Homo sapiens: one gene and its partners. The protein of the gene in region 1 interacts with the protein of each later gene in a pairwise test. Each region holds a gene or a part of one and is shown on either strand. Other genes may lie near its edges.

Region 1 (2,839 bases):
TTTGACACGTGTGGATTATGGAGATTATAGGGATTACAATTCAAGATGAGATTTTGGGTGGGAACACAGCCAAACCATATCAAAGCAGATTATATGAAGAAAAAAAAAAATCCCCTTTTACCTACTTTTTAGTTTATTATATATTTTTGTAGAAACTTATTTTGGTAGAAAAGTTGTTTGGTGCGCATGTCATAGTTACCCGTAAAACCTCACAAATGTTTAAGAAAATAAAATTATAAGCACAGTCTGTTTAAAAGCTAAATTATTTTTTGTCAGAAAAAAAAAAATCTAAGGTATTCATTTCCTCTGTGGCCTGGGTTACAAAGAGTAAATTTATAATCGAATGGAAAAAAAAAAAGTCTCAGAGGGAAAAAAGGTAGTGAATTCTTCAAATAAATAACTGTGCTGTCTTGTGATTTCAAATACAGTGTGCTTGATTCATAATACTATTAAAATATTCATTTCATACTTACGGAATATGAAAAACAGAAAATCCAATATTTGGAAGAAGTGTTTATTCTACGAGCAGATGTCATCCGCAAAGTTTATCAATTTACAATTAGGAAGGATTATGAGCCAAAGAGAAAGTTTTACAAAATAATACAATAAGACTAGCATCCAAATCGCATAGATTTATATGAGTGTGAAAAATAGGGACTCACTTTTTCAATTATGGGAAGCGTAGTGGGGGGAGAAAAGCAATTGTGTTCTGTGATAAATGAGCCTTTCTTAGCTGAGAAATCAGTTGCTTCCCATTTTATGTACTCAATTTGTGCACTTTCTATTCTATGCTCCAAACCATTTCTTTCATCTTATGAATAGAAGAAAATTAGAATTGTACTATTGAGGACATATGAGGAATTTATTCTTGAAATAAATTAACTACAATGATGCATTGTTGCGGTACTTTGATATAAAATCAGAAAGATACTGAGCTTGGAGAAGCATAATATTGTTATCACTTACAACTAAGTTTATTTGGGGGAGGAAAATATCTTGACTGATTCACCAATGTAAATGCACTGAAGGCAGCACACACCTCTGATGCGATTTGATGTGAGTTGTCATGTTAAATCTCAGACCCGGGGTATTATTAGGGTGCATTGCTTGCATCTAACAACCCATGCTCCAAGAAACCACGGTGAGAGCCAAGAAGTGAACCATTTTTTTTATATCCTGCATTTATTTAAGCAAACCAAATGTGTAGAGATAGGAAATTAATGTGTTATAATGTTTTACAAATACAGAGAGAAAACACAGAATATTAAGACCCTGAAGAGAGTGCATTTGAGAACGCAGTTCTATCATAGGAGACCACTTGCAGGGAACACATTAAAGCCATTGCTGACACAGCCATCTGTCATTCCTGGTTTGCCGTCATTTAAGTAGTTTCAATAGATAAATCGGTGATTTGCTTTTAAACAAATATTAATGTTAATGATTAGGGTAGCCTTGAAGGGTTTGTGAGTGACTGTACTATACAATGTGATGCTAGGCTTAATGTGTCATTTCAATGCTGTTGTACATTATGCAGGGGAAATAATGTCTTATTACACATTAACTGCGACATCCACTAAAATGTGAACTAGTTTGCATAGGTTAGTCCTTTGGGCAGCACGATGTTGCTCTAGTCCACCAAGGCTTAAAGATTCACAGTGTAGAGGAAAAAAATATGAATTAAAGCATTTCTACTAAAATATATTTTAATAGCTGGTGTTAACAATTTGCATAACAAAAGCCAAATTATATTAGTAACATTGTAACATTCCGTGAAGCCCCTTCATTTGCAAAACATTCAATGTTTTCTTCAAAACTGTTACACTCTCAAAGTTAGTCTCGCAAATTAATCATCAACCACAATTCTACATATTTTGAAGCAAACAGAAGCCAAACTGTACAATGGTTCAATTTTGATCACAGGTCAAACATCAAGTTTCACACCATGCCTGTAATAGACTTGGTGCTGCTTCCTAAATGCTCAGCAATTCATTGCATGGACACTGGAGAATGGGACTGTGATGCAGTTTTCTCTTTTCCTTTAAAGTACATCATTCTTAACAGCAACTGGATTACAAAGAAGTGATACTATGCAAACTGGATACCATGTATCAAGCACAAAAAATCCTATGGCATTCCCAGGAATATACTGAAGTCATACAGACAACTGAGAAAATTTGCTCAAAGATTCTTCCAAGTTTATGGGTTCAAGTAGTCTAAGCATCACAGAATAATAACCACAGAAGCAACATACAATGCCTTGACTTTTTTGATCAACAGTTGACAGTTAGTTGCGAGGAAAGGGTCCAAAAGGCATGGAATACTTCAGAGACTTTTATTTTAGCATCCTTGTCAGTTTACATAGCTTCTTACTTAACTAAAAGCTCTCCCACCTCCATATCACCTTAACCAAAACAACCACAATCTAGCCACTTTTAGATTATCAGAAGCAAATCGCTAAGGTATAATTAATTTATGAAGTGAAGTTCATCTTGTGTAGTGAATCCAGCCTCACAATTATTCTATCTTACAATAGGCATTTTAAATCCCAAATCTAAAGTTAATGTTTATATAGCTCAACTCTATATAAATCCACAAAGAACCTTTCAGAAATAGATGGAAGAAGTCGGCATTTTCTAAAGTTCTAAATCTTTAGAGATAAAATACAATCAGCTAACACCTTTAATATCTGAGGAGCATCCCACTTCCCTACCACAAAAATATCAATCATGTGTAATAAAATATTACTATAGAATAGGCAGCAACTTGCTTGCTTGGTTTTCTTTCCAAGAGCATACTAGACAAACAAGAGTAATCAAAAAGGCACCTATATTTGTATATA
Region 2 (3,500 bases), on another chromosome or scaffold:
AGGACTGGGCCTCCCAATACTTTATCATCTTAGGTAGATATTGTCCTGAGTGTCTGTTGAGGTGACTGTCACCCACCGTCACCCCACCTCCTTGTGCCCACACACACCTGCACCTTCTGCTGAGTCTCCTCACGCTCGGCAGCCTCCAGGGCCTCGCGGGGCCCCCCAGTCTGACTCTTCAGGGTCTGAATCTCCTAGAGGAGAAGAGTTCCCAGGGTCTGTTGCGGGGGTCCTGGCTTTCCCACAGGAGGTGAGGGAAGGCGAGGCCCAGGAACCACACTTGGCACTCACCTGGTCCTTGGTTTGCACCAGAGCTTCCAGCTGTTCCAGCGACTGGCCCTGGCCCAGCCCCTCCTTCTCACCGGTGGGGGTCACCTCTGAAGCTGCCTGAGCCTCCAGCTCAGCCACCTGTAGGGCAGGAATAGCAGCCCCTGACGCCCCCGCCTGCACTCTCCCTTGCTCGCCCAACCTCTAGGGAATCTGCCTCCTGTCTGGCCACGCCCAGGACCGAGCACCCATCTCCCTTGGTTGGTGCCACCACCCCCCTCTGCACAGCTTGGACTTTAGTGTCTGATCACCCTCTGAGGCTGGCATTGTCTCAAACCCATTTTACAGAGCAAGAAACTGAGGCTGGGTCAGTGACCTGCTGAGGTCACACAGCTAGTCCATGAACCCAGGGCAGATGGGAACTGCCGAGGCGCGGTCTCCACAGTTGCCCGGGCCAGGTGGGGGTCTCTCGGAGGGAGGGGTGCCCTCACCCGCTGCCGCAGCCGCTCGGCCTCTGCACGCTGAGCCTCCAGCTGCTGCCTCCACTGGGCTGCGGCGGCGTTGGCCTCTCGCAGGGCGCCTGCCAGCTTGTTGTTGCTGTCCTGCAGTGCGAAAAACTCGGCCTCCCACTGTACCTCGCCCACGGAGCTGCAGAGACACGAGGGTCGGCAGTGGGTGACACGGGGCTGGGGGGCGGAGTCGGGCGATGCTGGGCTAGGGGGCGGGGCCAGGGGTGGGATAGCTCTGGGCTTAGGTCAGGGCGAAGGCTGGCGAGGGTGCGGAGTCGTGCGCGAAGTTGGACTAGGGGGCGGGGCAGGGGTGGAGTGGCACTGGGCTGGGGGCGGAGTCAGCGGCAATGCTCGGTTAGGGGGCGGGGCCAGGGTGGGTGGCGCTGGGCTGAGGCGGAGTCACGGGCGATGCTGGGCTAGGGGGCGGGGCCAGAGGAGGGGTGGCTTTGGGCTAGGGCACGGAGTCAGGGCCACGCAGGGCTGGGGATGTGGCGACACTGATTGCTGAGCTTGGGGATGGGGCAGTCCCGCAGAAGCGGGGTCTTGTCGAGGACCGAGTCAAAGAAGGGGGCACGTGGAGTCCGCCCAGTGACACTGTGGGAATGTTGAGGGAGGGATGGGAGGTTGGGGAGAGTCAGCCGATGGGGGCGTGGTCAGGGTGGTTATCCTAAGACCAGAGAGGCATCGACGGGGCGAGGTTAGCAGCGAGAAGAGACAGGGATGGGGTCAAAACAGAGGGGCGTGGCCAACGCAGGGTAGGGGCGGGGTCGGCTCTGGATGGGGCAGCATTCAGATCCTCATCCCCTTCCCCAGGTCTTGAGTCCACAGTTAGATCCCGCCGTCCTGGCACTCCCTTGGCTTCCAAGAACCGCCTCCTCGTCCCCCACCCCTACCCCCGCCCCTGCCACGCCCCCAAGTCCCGCCCCTCACCCCTCAGACAACATCTTCTTTAGCCGCTCGCGCTCTGTGGGGCCGGGGGCATCAGCGCTCTGGCTGCGGAACAGTTTTTCCTCGCCGGGGCCGTTGGCACTGACGAGAGGGCTCGGGGGCACCTAGGCACGGGGAAAAGAATAGGTCACGACCCCACATCAGCTGGGATCAAGGCTGATGTGACTGGGGTCGTCACATCGGGGGTGCAATTGACCTATGCACCCTAAGCAGGTCCTTCACAGCACAGGATCCAAGTGTGTCCCTCCCCACCTCACCCACCCTCCATGGCTCCCTGTGGCCCCTAAGCTGGGAGTTCCATGCCCACGCCCTCGACCTTGCCTTCCTGGGCTTTCACCACCCCCAGGAGCAAGTCTGATGCAGGTTAGTCTAAACCAAGATACTTAGAACCTGTAAGGTAGGGGAGGGGTACAATCGGACACCTCCCTGCTGTTCCCTTCCCTGAGGCCGAACTTCAACATCACGTTTAGGATTTCAGCAGGAAGCCCTGCCCAGGCCGAATTCGTGTTTCGTGAGCAACCCCACTGCCTGGACCACTGGCTCTGAGGGTAGACAAGCTGGCGGGTGCCCTGCGAGAGGCCAGCGCCACCGCAGCCCAGTGCAGGCAGCAGCTGGAGGCTCATGCTTTTTTTCATCTCTCCAACCCCTGTGCACAGCCCTCGGCCTGGTACACAGCAGGTGCTCAATAAATAATGCTGAATAAATTAATGTGGGAAAACACGCAGGGACAGTTCGTTGTTCTGCCTCACACTTAGCCATTTCTTTCTTTCTTTTTTTTTTTGAGACAGAGTCACACTCTGTCACCCAGGCTGGAGTGCAGTGGCACGATCTCGGCTCACTGCAACCTCCATCTCCTGGGTTCAAGCGATTCTCCTGCCTCAGCCTCCCGAGTAGCTGGGACTACAGGCGCATGCCACCACGCCTGGCTAATTTTTGTATTTTTTAGCAGAGGTGGAGTATCACCATGTTGGCCAGGCTGGTCTCGAACTCTTGGCCTCAAGTCATCCTCCCTCCTCAGCCTCCCAAATTGCTGGGATTACAGGCGTGAGCCACCGCACCCGGCCACACTTAGCCATTTCAATTTCTAGTCTTCCATCCTGCCATCTGAGCTGGTTTTGCTACTGGGACCTACTGGGTGTACCCCACCGGCCCCAGGCAAGGTCCAGACCCTCTATGACACACTCCACACCACTCCTCTGTGGTCCCTGCTGTGGGTCTAACCTTAGGTCATCTGGAAGCATTGGGTCTTGACGACCAGCAGAGTGCCCCGGTCTCCCAATATCAAGGTCCCCCAATATCAGTTGAGCGCCTGGCTGACTCACAGGTGCCCAGGCAGGCATAGGGGAGTAGGGAGTGCTGACCTGGTGGGAGGCGAGCCCCAGGGCTGGACTGGTGAGCTCCCCGCCATCCTGAGATTTCTCCCTGGCCAGCCTGGCTGCTTCCTTCACTTCCTGGAACTTCTCGGCAAACTAAGGGAGTGGGGAGGAAAAGACAGTAAAACCCCAGCCCATCCTCCCAAACAGGTCACCATCACTCAGTGACAGCCCCGCCACTTTCGAACCGTACCCATCCCCTTATCACACACCTTGGAAGAAGGAGAGAAACTTTGAAAAATGATGTACCATGGTGGGTGGGCAGGTGGCATCAGATCACAGAGGTGGCATTTAAATACATTGGGCCACATTGAGAAAGGGAAAGGAATTCCCATGTCCTCTTTTTAGGAAAGGGTCTCACTTTGTCACCCAGGCTGCAGTACAGTGGCATGATCTCGGCTCA
Region 3 (3,500 bases), on another chromosome or scaffold:
GAGCAAGACTCCATCTCAAAAAAAAAAAAAATTTAATAAAGATAAAAATAAAAAATAAAAACATCATAGTGATCTCTTGACCTCACAATCCGCCCACCTCAGCCTCCCAAAGTGCTGGGATTACAGGCGTGTGCCACCGCACCCAGCCACCTCTGCCTTCTTTAAAAAACTTTTATCTGGCTGGGCGTCCACACACCTGTAATCCTAGCACTTTGGGAGGCTGAGGCGGGTGGATCACCTGAGGTCAGGAGTTCAAGACCAGCCTGGCCAACATGGTGAAACTCTGTCTCTACTAAAAATACAAAAATTAGCCAGGTGTGGTGGCACATGCCTGTACTCCAAGCTACTTGGGAGGCTGAGGAAGGAGAATCGCTTGAACCTGGGAAGTGGAGGTTGCAGTGAGCCAAGATCATGCCACTGCATCCCAGCCTGTGTGACAGGAGTGAGACTCCATCTCAAAAAAAATAAAATTTTAAAAAGCTTTTATCATTTCTCATCAGATTACTGTAATAAAGATAAAGAATTCTCCCTTCCTCAGTGTATCTCTTCACCATCAATCCATTCTCTTTATTGCTGCCAGAGAAATATATATATTTTTTGAGATGGTGTCTCACTCTGTTGCCCAGGCTGGAGTGCAGTGGCGCGATCTCGGCTCACTGCAGCCTCCGCCACCTGGGTTCAAGCGATTCTCCTGCCTCAGCCTCCTTAGTAGCTGGGACTACAGGCGCACGCCACCACGTTCGGCTAATTTTTGTATTTTTAGTAGACACGGGGTTTCACCATGTTGGCCAGGATGGTCTCAATCTCCTGACCTTGTGATCCACCTGCCTCGGCCTCTCAAAGTGGTGGGATTACAGGCGTGAGCCACCGCCCCTCGCCAGAAATCTTTCTAAAACACAAATACCTGTTTAACATATTTCTGCCTTGCTCCCATCATCCACTCTAAACTCTTCAGTGCAGTATACAAGATTCTTCACTCCACACCTCCTGTTCCAGTCCCACGTGAATTCCCCAAGACTGATCATGCAGGACACCACTGCCTCCCTCCTGATCACGCAGGACACCGCTGCCTCCCTCCTGATCACGCAAGACACCGCTGCCTCCCTCCTGATCACGCAGGACACCACTGCCTCCCTCCTGATCACGCAGGTGTCGACACTGCTGCCTCCCTCCTGCGCATCCTTTCAAGGTCAGCTCATGAGCTCCCCACCATAGACACTTCTCCTCTGACTCCCATAGCATTTGAAACACACATCTCTATTATATGCTTGTGACCTAATATTCTGCAACCTTTATATTTTTTAATTTTTTAATTTTTTATTATTTTATTTTATTTTTTGAGATGGAGTGTCACTCTGTCGCTCAGGCTGGAGCACAGTGGAGCTATCTCGGCTCACTGCAATCTCCGCCTCCTGGGTTCAAGCAATTCTCCTGCCTCAGCCTCCTGAGTAGCTGGGATTACAGGCGCTCGCCACCACGCCTGGCTAATTTTTGTATTTTTAGTAGAGACAGGGTTTCACCATGTTGGCCAGGCTGGTCTCGAACTCCAGACCTCAGGTAATCCACCTGCCTCAGCCCTGCAAAGTGCTGGGATTACAGGTGTGAGCCACCATGCCTGGCCTAATTTTTGTTTTTGTAGAGACAAGGTCTCACTATGTTAGCCTGGGCTTGTCTTTAACTCCTGGGCTCAAGCAATCCCTTTGCTTCAGCCTCCCAAAGTGGTGGGATAATAGGCATCAGGCACTGTGCCTGGCCCTGTAAGCTTGTTGAGGGTAGGAACTGCGTCTTTTTATTTCTACATTCACAGTATTATCACAGGCCTTCAAACACCTCGAACAAAGGTGTTGAAAATGAATAAACCGAGAGGCTAGTTTGTGGAGCCTTGTGGGAAGACGTTCAGCAAAGAGGAAGGGATTCACACCTTGGTAGCCAGCTCTTTCTCTCGGTCCACCAGGCTTTCGATGTCTCCTGAATCATAGCCACTGCTCTCGCTAGGTGTGATGGCGCTTTCAAAGGTAGTGGTTGAGATCTGAGAGGAGATACTGGTGGAGGTGCTGAGGGTCCCACTGCTGAGGCTGGGGGATAACGAGTCGCTCAGGGATTTGGGGATGCTGTCACCAAGTCTCTCACGCAGCAGCAAAAAGTGGCGGGTTTTTTCCACCTGAGAAGATCAATACTACTGCTATAGCAAACACAAAGCTCGTTAAGACCTCAGGAGAGAAAAGTGAAAAGCTATGATCACATGCAGCAGCGGGGAGGAAGACTGATACTTTGGCAATCTTGTCCGAGAGTTCTTGCATCTGAACAACCCTGCCCCTGGATACCTCATGTAGGAGCTCCAGCTTCTCCAGCTCCCACTGGTGCTCAAGGATGAGGCTGTCTCCACGGGGCCGCCAGCCTGCTAAGTTCTCTTCTCCCCGCACATATGCCACTGACGTATCTAAGATTTTTCTTCTCCTTCTCTGCATACCTAAGACAAGAGGAAACAAGTTTTTGTTTCAGAAAAAAAATTCAATTCCAAGTTTAGGTCAAAACGAATTAATAATTCTTTTTTTTTTTTTTTTGAGATGGAGTCTCGCTCTGTTGCCCAGGCTGGAGTGCAGTGGCGTGATCTCAGCCCACTGCAAGCTCCGCCTCCTGGGTTCATGCCATTCTCCTGCCTCAGCCTCCCGAGTAGCTGAGACTACAGGTGCCCGCCACCATGCCCAGCTAATTTTTTGTATTTTTAGTAGAGACCGGGTTTCACTGTGTTAGCCAGGATGGTCTCGATCTCCTGACCTCGTGATCCACCTGCCTCAGCCTCCCAAAGTGCTGGAATTACAGGCGTGAGCCACCGCGCCTGGCCACGAATTAATAATTCTTATACGTAGCAAACTAAGACAGTTTGGTCTGAAGATATATGGGATTTTGTTTAAATAGCAAAGCAACTGAACGTTTTTAAAAACTGAGTTTTACATTCTTTGATAATTATGAAGACTGGGATGCAATTTAAGAAAATGATAAAATTATGATGTTAGGTGAAAATGCAGAAATATTAAATAGTCTGTAGTAGTCTATACACTATGGGGCCGGGCGTGATGGCTCACGCCTGTAATCCCAGCACTTTGGGAGGCTGAGGTGGGCTATCATCTGAGGTCAGGAGTTCGAGACCAGCCTGGCCAACATAGTGAAACCCCATCTCTACTAAAAATACAAAAATTAGCTGGGCATGGTGGTGGGTGCTTGCAAACCCAGCTACTCAGGAGGCTGAGGCAGGAGAATCACTTGAACCCAGGAGGCAGAGGTTGCAGTGAGCCAAGATGGCGCCACCACACTCCAGCCTGGGTGACACAGCGAGACTCTGTCTCAAAAAAAAAAAAAAAAAAAAAAGATCCTGTCCCTAAAAATAAAAATTTTTAAAAAGACGGAAGGGAATACACACACACATACACACACTCAGTAGCTCACTGGCTGACAGATGACAGAGAACTTTAGCCTCTATTATTTCCTGTTAATTTTTT
Region 4 (3,500 bases), on another chromosome or scaffold:
GGAGTTTTGCTTTTGTTACCCAGGCTGGAGTGCAATGGTGTGATCCTGGCTCACTGCAACCTCTGCCTCCCAGGTTCAAGCGATTCTCCTGCCTCAGCCTCCTGAGTAGCTGGGATTACAGGCACCTGCCACCACGCCCAGCTAATTTTTGTATTTTTAGTAGAGATGGGGTTTCTCCCTGTCGGCCAGGCTGGTCTCGAACTCCTGACCTTAGGTGATCCACCCACCTTGGCCTCCCAAAGTGCTGGGATTACAGGTGTGAGCCACTGTGCCTGGCCTCTGCAAAAACTTATAAAAGAAATTAGTTAGGTGCAGTGGTGTACACCTGTAGTCCCAGCTACTTGGGAGGCTGAGGCAGGAGGACTGATTGAGTCCAGGAGCTCAAGGCTACAGAGCTATGATCGCATCGCTGCTCTCCAAACGGCAACAGAGTGAGACTGTGTCTCAAACAACAAAACAACAACAAAAAACAATCTTATGGAATGCAGTGAAAGCAGTGTTTAGAGGGAAATCTGTAGCTGTAAATGCTTACATTCAAAAAGAAACACCTTGGCCGGGAAACGTCTACTCAGGAGGCTGAGGCAGGAGAATCGCCTGGGCGGCGGAGGCTGCAGTGAGCTGAGATCATGCCACTGCACTCCAGTCTGGGTGACAGAGGGAGACTCCATCTCAACAGCAACCAAAAAAAAAAAAAAAAAAAAAAAAAGAAAAGAAAAAAGAGATCTCAAATCAATAACTTAACTGTATACCTTGAAAAATTAGGGGAAAAAAAGAGCAAATTAAACCCAAACCAGCAGAAAAAAGGAAACAAAGGTTAAAATGGAAATAAATGAAACAGAATGGGAAAACAATAGAGATCAGCAACAAAAAAGATCAACAAAATTGACAAACCTTTAGCGAAAATGACCAAGAAGAAAAGACAGGCCATGCGTGGTGGCTCATGCCTGTAATCCTAGCACTTTGGGAGGCCAAGGCTGGTGGATAACCTGAGGTCAGGATTTCAAGACCAGCCTGGCCGACAGGGAGAAACCCCATCTCTACTAAAAATACAAAAACTGGCTGGGCATGGTGGCTCATGCCTATAATCCCAGCACTTTGGGAGGCCAAGGTGGGCGGATCACCTCAGGTAGGGAGTCCAAGACCAGCCTGGCCAACATGGTGAAATCCCATCTCTACTAAAAATATAAAAATCAGCCAGGCGTGGTGGTGCACGCCTATAGTTCCAGCTACTCAGGAGGCTGAGGCAGGAGAATTGCTGGAATCTGGGAGTCGGAGGTTGCAATGAGTGAGATTGCACCACTGCACTCCAGCCTGGGAGACAGAAACAGACTCCGTCTCAAAAACAAAAAAACAAAACAAAACTAGCTGGGTGTGGTGGCTCACACCTGTAATCCCAGCTACTCAGGAGGCTAAGGCAGAATTGCTTGAACCTGGGAGGCAGGGGTTGCAGTGAGCCAAGATCATGCCACTGCACTCCAGCCTGGGTGACACAGTGAGACTCCATCTCAAAAAAAAAAAAAGAGGAAGAAAAGAGATGACTCAAATTGCTAAAACCAAGAGAGAAAGTGGAGCTATTACTACTGATCTTACAGAAATAACTAGGGCTATAAAAGGATACTATGAACAATTGTATGGTAACAGATTAGATAACATAAACAAAATGGACAAATTCCTAGAAACATGCATGCAAACTATCTAAACTGACTCAAGGCTGGACGCGGTGGCTTATGTCTGTAGTCCCAGCACTTTGTGAGGCCGAGGCGGGTGGATCACCTGAGGTCAGGAGTTCGAGACCAGCCTGGCCAACATGGTGAAATGCTGTTCCTACTAAAAATACAAAAATTAGCCAGGTATGCTGGCGTGCGCCTGTAGTCCGAGATACTGGGGAGGCTGAGGTGGGAGAATCACTTGAACTCGGGAGGTAGAAGTTGCAGTGAGCCAAGATGGCACCACTGCACTCCAGCCTGGGCGACAGAGCGAGACCAAACTGACTCAAGAAGAAACAGAAAATCTGAATAGACCTATAACAAATAAAGAATCAGTAGTCAAAAAACTTCCAATGAAAGAAAAGTTCAGAAACTTTCACTACAGTTATACGTTTTAGCTTCCAAAAAGAAAAGTCAATTTCAATAAGGAAATTGAATCAATAGTCAATAAACTTCCAACAAAAGAAAAGTCCATCTCTCTCTCTCTCTCTCTCTCTCTATATATGATTGTATATATCACTTCACTGTTGAATTCTATCAAACATTTGAAGAAGAATTAACACCAATCCCTTTTTACCTCTTCCCATAATATAAAGAATACTTCCTAACTCATTCTATGAGGCCAATATTATGCTGGCATCAAAGCTATACAAAGACATGCCAAGAAAAGAAAACTACAGACCAATATCCCTTATCAATACAGATGCAAATATTCTCAACAAAACAGCAGCAAATCAAATCCAGCAATGTTATTACATGATAAGGCCTTAAACTTTTAACTGTTAAAAAGATAAGGCTCGCTGCGGTGGCTCACGCCTGTAATCCCAGCACTTCGGGAGGCCAAGGTGGGTGAATCACGAGGTCAGGAGTGCAAGACCAGCCTGTCCAACATGGCAAAACACCGTCTCAACTAAAAACACAAAAAATTAGCTGGGCATAGTGGCGGGCACCTGTAGTCCCAGCTACTCAGGAGGCTGAGGCAGGAGAATTGCTTGAACCCGGGAGATGGAGGTTGCAGTGAGCCGAGATCGCGCCACTCACTCCAGCCCGGCGACAGAGTGAGACTCTGTCTCAAAAAAAAAAAAAAAGAAAAAGAAAAAAGATAGGGCCAAGTGGCTCATGCCTATAATCCCAGCGCTTTCGGAGGCTGAGGCAGGAGGATCACTTTAGCCCAGGAGTTTGAGACCAGCTTGGGCAACAGAGTGAAATCTCATCTCTACAAAAATAATAATAATAAAGAGATAATACGCCATGAATATGCGTGCTTTATCTGAGGAATTCAAGGATGGTTCAACATACGAAAATCAATATACCACATTAACAAAATGAAAGGAAAAAAACCACACATGATCATCTAAAGGAAAAAAGCATTTGAAAAATCCCACACAGCTGGGTGCAGTGCAGTGACTCACCCCTGTAATCTCAGCACTTTGGGAGGCTGAGGCAGGATTGCTTGAGCCCTGGAGTTTAAGACCAGCCTGGGCAGCAAAGCAGGACCCTACCTCTACAGAAAAATTAAAAAATTAGCTGGGCATGGTGGCTCATGCCTGTAGTCTCACCTACTCAGGAGGATGAAGTAGGAGGATCCCCTGAGCCCAGGAATTCGAGGTTGCAGTGAGCCATGATCATGCCACTGCCCTCCAGCCTGGGTGACAGAACAAGACCCTATCTTTAAAAAAAAAATCAACACCCTTTCATGATAAAAAACACTCAACACACTATGAATATAAGAGAATTTCCTCAACTCGATAAAGGGAATCTACAGAAAACCTACAAGTAACATCATATTCAACA

Evidence for each region. Proteins that work in one complex are often made in the same cells at the same time.
Region 2: the proteins of NEBL (region 1) and HOMER3 interact in binary tests that used the Homo sapiens proteins (3 or more experiments, as listed by UniProt).
Region 3: the proteins of NEBL (region 1) and KIF1B interact in binary tests that used the Homo sapiens proteins (3 or more experiments, as listed by UniProt).
Region 4: the proteins of NEBL (region 1) and ZGPAT interact in binary tests that used the Homo sapiens proteins (3 or more experiments, as listed by UniProt).

What each region holds. Positions count from the first base shown.
Region 1 is NC_000010.11:20,779,473-20,782,311, forward strand, and holds the end of NEBL (nebulette), read right to left. Parts: 3' UTR 501-2,839; downstream 1-500. UniProt on the Homo sapiens protein: Binds to actin and plays an important role in the assembly of the Z-disk. May functionally link sarcomeric actin to the desmin intermediate filaments in the heart muscle sarcomeres.
Region 2 is NC_000019.10:18,931,218-18,934,717, forward strand, and holds part of HOMER3 (homer protein homolog 3), read right to left. Parts: intron 3,194-3,500; coding exon 3,086-3,193; intron 1,829-3,085; coding exon 1,707-1,828; intron 916-1,706; coding exon 759-915; intron 409-758; coding exon 292-408; intron 195-291; coding exon 108-194; intron 1-107. UniProt on the Homo sapiens protein: Postsynaptic density scaffolding protein. Binds and cross-links cytoplasmic regions of GRM1, GRM5, ITPR1, DNM3, RYR1, RYR2, SHANK1 and SHANK3.
Region 3 is NC_000001.11:10,364,070-10,367,569, reverse strand, and holds part of KIF1B (kinesin-like protein KIF1B), read right to left. Parts: intron 2,471-3,500; coding exon 2,325-2,470; intron 2,162-2,324; coding exon 1,922-2,161; intron 1-1,921. UniProt on the Homo sapiens protein: Has a plus-end-directed microtubule motor activity and functions as a motor for transport of vesicles and organelles along microtubules.
Region 4 is NC_000020.11:63,714,539-63,718,038, reverse strand, and holds part of ZGPAT (zinc finger CCCH-type with G patch domain-containing protein), read right to left. Parts: intron 1-3,500. UniProt on the Homo sapiens protein: Transcription repressor that specifically binds the 5'-GGAG[GA]A[GA]A-3' consensus sequence. Represses transcription by recruiting the chromatin multiprotein complex NuRD to target promoters.